2 separate regions of the Homo sapiens genome follow, and region 1 is linked to region 2. Evidence: fine-mapped expression QTL. A gene starts in region 2. The other region holds a variant in brackets. All regions are shown on one strand. Distances are from middle to middle. Region 1 overlaps LOC105371929 (a long non-coding RNA gene). Region 2 holds the start of GCGR (glucagon receptor).

What was found. PIP is the estimated chance that this variant, and not a neighbour inherited with it, causes the effect.
Region 1: its variant is the best candidate, but not a certain one, in a credible set for the expression of GCGR in unexposed skin (GTEx, PIP 0.68).

What each region holds. Positions count from the first base shown.
Region 1 is chr17:81,733,813-81,736,812 of GRCh38, forward strand. LOC105371929 (a long non-coding RNA gene) reads left to right here. Exons shown (of 3, transcript XR_935049.2): 1 at 1-10; 2 at 974-2,043. Among named protein-coding and RNA genes, the nearest start is that of SLC25A10, 23 kb to the left of the region's middle. The variant G/A (reference allele first, on the strand shown) is at 1,476.
Region 2 is chr17:81,802,718-81,805,217 of GRCh38, forward strand. GCGR (glucagon receptor) reads left to right here and starts at 1,433. Exons shown (of 14, transcript NM_000160.5): 1 at 1,433-1,532. It overlaps LOC105376789 (a long non-coding RNA gene), which reads right to left and starts at 2,028. Exons shown (of 4, transcript XR_001753046.3): 1 at 1,941-2,028. RefSeq lists an enhancer at 902-1,401.

The DNA.
Region 1 (3,000 bases), 69 kb before region 2:
GTGTGAACAGGTGAGTGAGGAGAAGCCGGCAGAGGCGGTGGGGTGGATGGTCCACCCGGCTGGCCAGCGGCCTGTCACTCCCTGAGTGGCCTCTGGGTGGCAGCCATGTGGCGCTGTCGGCTCAGGAAGGCTTGGTGCTGGAATGGGGCTGGGACATGGCCAGCCAGGCAGGGTGAGGAGGGTGGCAGCGCCCAGTGCAGCCTGGACAGATGGGGTTCTGCCCGGCAGGGCTGGCATGGGGGCTTCTTTATGCCAAGCCAGCCCTGGGGGAGGCCTCGGCTGTCCAGGGTGAAACAGGGTCAGGGTGATCAGGCTCGGTTTGTGGGGGCGGCCTGTCCTGCTGGAGGGTCCTCCTCACCCAACCCCAGCCTGCTGCAGGCTGTCTGCAGGGGAGATGGCAAAGACGGTGTTGTCCAGTTTGCTTGGGACATGAATGGTCTGGCAAATACGCAATGACACAGCTCTGGGGTCCAGATCCGGCCCAGGCGGCCGCCTGACAGAGGAGGTGCCCACAGAGCTTCCGTGAGAGGGCAGCCCAGGCCCAAGCAGCACTAGAACCCCGGCTTTGGGCTTTTGGGGACTTAGCCGGCCCCGGGGCCAGGGGTAGGATCAGGTTTCCACAGGCCAGACGGCCCCGCACAGTCACCACCGTCACCGTCACCATCACCCGGTGCTGGGCGGGCACCATGTGGACTCCACTTGGCACTGGGCCGATGGGCGGATGCCAGAGCCAGAGCAAAGGCCTCGTTAGCCCCTCGGGGAGGGCACGGCAGGGCCGGGCGACTCAGGAGGGCTGCGGGGTGACGTCTGATTGAGCCTGGAAGGACAGGCCGACCACAGGATGGAGGCCACAGCATCCTTCCCGGAGTCTGACCCCACGCTGGAGACAGAGGGGCTGGGCTGGGCTGGGCAACCTAGACCCGGGAGCCCATCTGTCCAGCCACCAGCGTCCGTCTGTCTGGGTCCCTGCTAGGGAGAGTCTGCAGCAGGGAGACCCCGGCAGCTTCGAGTATGGAGGGGAGACTCTGGCCGCCTGAGGTGAGTAACGTTGGGGGATGATTGTGGGGCTCCATTGGGACTTGGCAGGGCTCTGGGGGTGGGCACTGCAGGGGAAGCAGCTGCAGGCAGGGTGCAGAGGAGGCTCAGCTGAGTCTCCCGCGTGGGACTTCCAACCCCTCCAGGGTCTCTCCAACCCACTTCAGCTTGCAATCCACCCTCCTGCCCTGTGACCATGTGTGGTCACCCGCCCTCAGGGCACAAAAGGGGTCCAGCTCTATTTTCCAGGGACAACTCCAGACCCATGATCCCAGAAGCTTGGGGCCTGCCTTTATCCCAGCACCCAACCCCGAGAGCCCCCAGTGATGGAACTGGTGCAGCGGCCACCACTGCCCGGACCCGGGAGCAACACCGATGCCACACCTGGCGGCAGGAACAGGGCAGTGATGGGCTGTCTGCAAGGGGTCCCCCCTTCCGCA[G/A]CAGGTCTCTTGGCTGCAGCTCAGCCCCAGCCCCTGCGGTCCCCAGAGTCCCGGTCACTGGGGGCTCTGCAGGCCACCCTTCCAGGGGCATCCACCCACCCCCGAGTCCGGGTCAGGCAGAACCCAGGGCCCGCCGTCCCCTCCTGCAGGCTCAGGACCTCCTGGGGGGAGTTCCCTGTGTGATGCAGAGGGCACGCTCACCCTGCTGGGAAGGCTCACTGCTTCCCAAGGGGTCTGAGCTTTACTGGCACCTCACTGCAGTCCCTTCCCCGGGGAGACTCTGGGGCTTCCCCTGTGGGACCAGGCACCCGGAAAGGCAGCTCTGTCCCTGCTGAGTCACGCGCACCATCCTGCAGACGGGAGGGCATCTTCCTAGGCTTTCCTCCAGCCAAGAGTGGAGCTGGGACCTGGGAACCTCCCTGGAACCACCCCTGCTCTCCGGCAAGGCGTTCCACCAGCCTGTGTCTACACACGTAGCCCCGCAGAGCAGGCTTCGTGATGCCTGGAGACACCCACTTCCCCTTCCTTCTCCTGGGACTTCTCAGTCACACGGGCTGAGCTGCAGAGGGTGCGTGACCTGGGCTGAGCTGGTCTTTGGCAACTGGGGACTTTGGTTTGACGGTTGGTGGAGGGGAGACTCTCCTAACTTCCAGGGGTGTGAGTCGCAGGCGGTGCAGATGATAGGACAGTGGCCGTTGCCTAGGGCTGAAACCAACACAGCGGTGGGCGGAGCACAGGGAACTTCGGAGAGGGAGCCCGGCCCCCGAGTCAGCTGCTCCTGCGGGTGCTCCCCAAATCATCTAGTGATGTGATCCATTTGTCTTTCCAGCCCATTTCAGTTGAGTTTCCAATGACTTACAACCAATAATATCTCAACTGATACTTGGGCTCTTCAAGCACTAGAATTGTGGTGACGGCAGGAGCGTTAACACACTCTGGGGCGGGGCAGGGACTGCAGACTGAGCGGGCTCCAGGTGAATGCCAGCTTCCAGCCCTGCTGAGCCAGGCTGGGACGAACATGCTCACTAGGTCCGTCTCCACCTACTGTGGGCCAGCGCTGCGTGGCTCACTCCAGGGAAGACAGCAAGTTGGCTCAGCCGCTGCTGTGTGGCTGCTGCTCCCCTGAGTTTATGGCTGTCCATGGCATCTGCCAGGGTCCATCTGGTTTTTTGTGGGAATTGTGCCCGTGAATTTAACAAGGATTGATGGGCATTGCCATCTTGTCTTTTTTTTTTTTTTTAGACAGAGTCTCACTCTGTCGCCGAGGCTGGAGTGCAGTGGCACGATCTCGGCTCACTGCAACCTCTGTCTCCTGGGTTCACACGATTCTCCTGCCTCAGCCTCCCGAGTAGCTGGTATTATAGGCGCCCACCACCACACCCGGCTAATTTGTGTCTTTTTAGTAGAGACGGGGTTTCACCATGTTGGCCAGGCTGGTCTCGAACTCCTGACCTCAGGTGATCCGCCCGCCTTGGCTTCCCAAAGTGCTGGGATTACAGGTGTGAGCCACTGCACCTGGCCTATG
Region 2 (2,500 bases):
TAAGACCCTGGGTTCCCACGCCCCCAAAACAGAAGTAGAATTAGGGAGAAAGGACCCCCAAGACCAAGGACGGCACCTATCAGAGGAGCTCTCCACGGGCAGGAGGTGTCCCAGGGTGAGGGTGGCCAGGACAGGTCTAGGGAAATGCAGGTGGAGCAGGACCCAGAGATGGATTGGAGATGCCGGAGGGGAGGCTTCCTAGCGGGAGCGGAGACAGGCACTGCAGACAAGTGTCAGCGGGAGGGGCTCTGGGTGGGGAAGAAGACTGGGACTTGGAGGAAGACCTCTCCAGGGAGAAGGGAGGAGGGGGAAGGAGAAGGGGAGGAAGTGGGAGGAGGAGAGTGCTCATCCTGGAAGCCACAGCCTCGGAGAGAACTTTCTAGAAGGAAGGCATGACCATCAGTGTCCCAGGATGCTGAGAGGCCAGGAAAGGTGAGGCCTCAAGGCGCCATGGGGTTGTGGTGACCCCAAGATCACTGGGCACAGAGCAGGGATGGCTGGGGGTGGAAGGGGAGGGGCGCGGGCTGAGGTTCTAGGGCCCCAAAGCCAGGTGTGATGTGGCTCTAGGGGGAGTGAGGAAGGGGAGAATGTCCCTCTGAGCGTGCCTCTTGGGGAAGGCAGGGGTTCTGGCTGGGGCTTCTCCACTCCCAGGAAAGGAGGTGGTGTGGAAGGAGCGGGTGGGACGGAGGAGAGAGCGCCCCGCGGCCGCAGGACCAGCAGGTGGGGGACCAGGGTCAGCGCTGCTGGAGGGGCCTTAGCGCGACAGGACTGGCCAGAGACCGGGGATGTGGCACAGAAAGAGTTAAAGGGCACCCCAGGGACCGCCCTGCCGGTCCACCCATGTCACCCATGTTGGCCCCTACTCCAGCCCCCGTCTGCTCTGCAGGGGAAGGAACCGGGAGCCGCGGTGGGGGCGACTGGGGGTGTCGGTCTTTCCAGAAAATCAGGCAGGCATCAGGAAAGAAGGGGCGAGAACCCGGGGACGCGAGAGGAAGGGGGCGAGGGGGCGCCCAGGGAGGCGGAGGGAGCGAGAGGAAGGGGGGCTGAGCCACGGCCCCCACGCCCGCGCGCCCCTCCGCGTCCCAGGGCGTCCCCTCCCGGAGCTGGGACCCACCGCGACCACCACCTGCTGGGCCAGGGTCCGCGGGCTCAGGGGTCTGCAGGATTAGGGTCTGCGGAACCAGGACCCGTGGGACAAAGGTCTGTGGGGCGCGGGTCCGCGGGGTGGAATTCAGCGCGCCGAGTCTGCGTATGGCCGGGGTACGAGGCGCTCCCTGCGCAGGGTGGGCAGGACCGAAGCTCGCCGGGAGGCTGCGCGGAGGGCGGGCGGGGACCCTCGGCTGCCGCTCCCACCCCCGCGGGGCCGCCCCCGAGCCCGCCCTCCGCCGCCGCCCTCGCCCTGCGTCGCCGCCGGAAAGTTTGCACCGACCCCGATCTGGCAGCGCCGCGAAGACGAGCGGTCACCGGCGCCCGACCCGAGCGCGCCCAGAGGACGGCGGGGAGCCAAGCCGACCCCCGAGCAGCGCCGCGCGGTGAGCACCTGGGCCGCGGCCCCGAGGGGACGTTGGGGAGTCGACCCGGTGGGGACAGAGACCGCGGGGCGGGCGCGGCGGGGCCGGGGGCGCGGGGAGCGGGGAGCCGGCCGGGCGGTCTCCGGGGTCCGGGCTGGTGCGCTCCTCAGTCCCGTCAGACACCCCCGTTCCCAACCCCGGCTCGGACACCACCCGGTCCTGCACCGTCGGGCAGGTCCAGGGGTCTCAGCCCCTCCCCCGTTCTCTGGTCCTGGGGGGCGCGGCTGGGGGCGGGGGTGTCGCTGGCCGCCTGGCGCCCTGCGGCGGCCACACTGCAGCGGCCACACTCCCCACTCAGGGCCCCGGGCCCCGCCGCCCTGGGGAGCGCACAAAGCGCCGCGGACGCGTCCCCGAGGCGCGGGGTCTCACCAGCGCTGTCTCCCCTCGGTGGGCTCCTGCCCCGAGGACTGCCCGGTGGCACCGGCGCGGCCCAGGATGGGGTGAGGGGTGTCTGCGCCCCGCCTGGCCGCTCCTCTTCCGCGGCCCACACTGGCGACTTTGACCCCGGCAAGCGGGTCACTGCCCTGCCCGGCTCCGGCCCCCCCGGCGCCCCACCACCCGGCCGACTCGGCCACCGGGCTTATGCTCCGACTCTGAACCGACTGACCCCGGCCCCCTCGGCGCCCGCATCCTCCAAGGACCGGCCAGGGCTGCTCTCTGCCCTTGGTATTGGGGACATCAGGGTTGGGGGGTCTGGGTGCACCCACGCCTGCCCCGCCCCCACGGGGTGAGGGCGCAGGGATAGGGCTTTGTCAACAGCCTGTGGCCCCTGATCCCGCCCCGGTGCCCTGACCTTCCACTACCTTCTCTGGTTTCACAAAAACATCCCGGCTCCCATCCCGGAGCTCCTCAAAGCGTCTGAGAGGCCCCTTGCGGACGCCCTGGGAGCCCCGCTGCCTTCCTGGACCAGTGGCCGCTCCACCCATCCT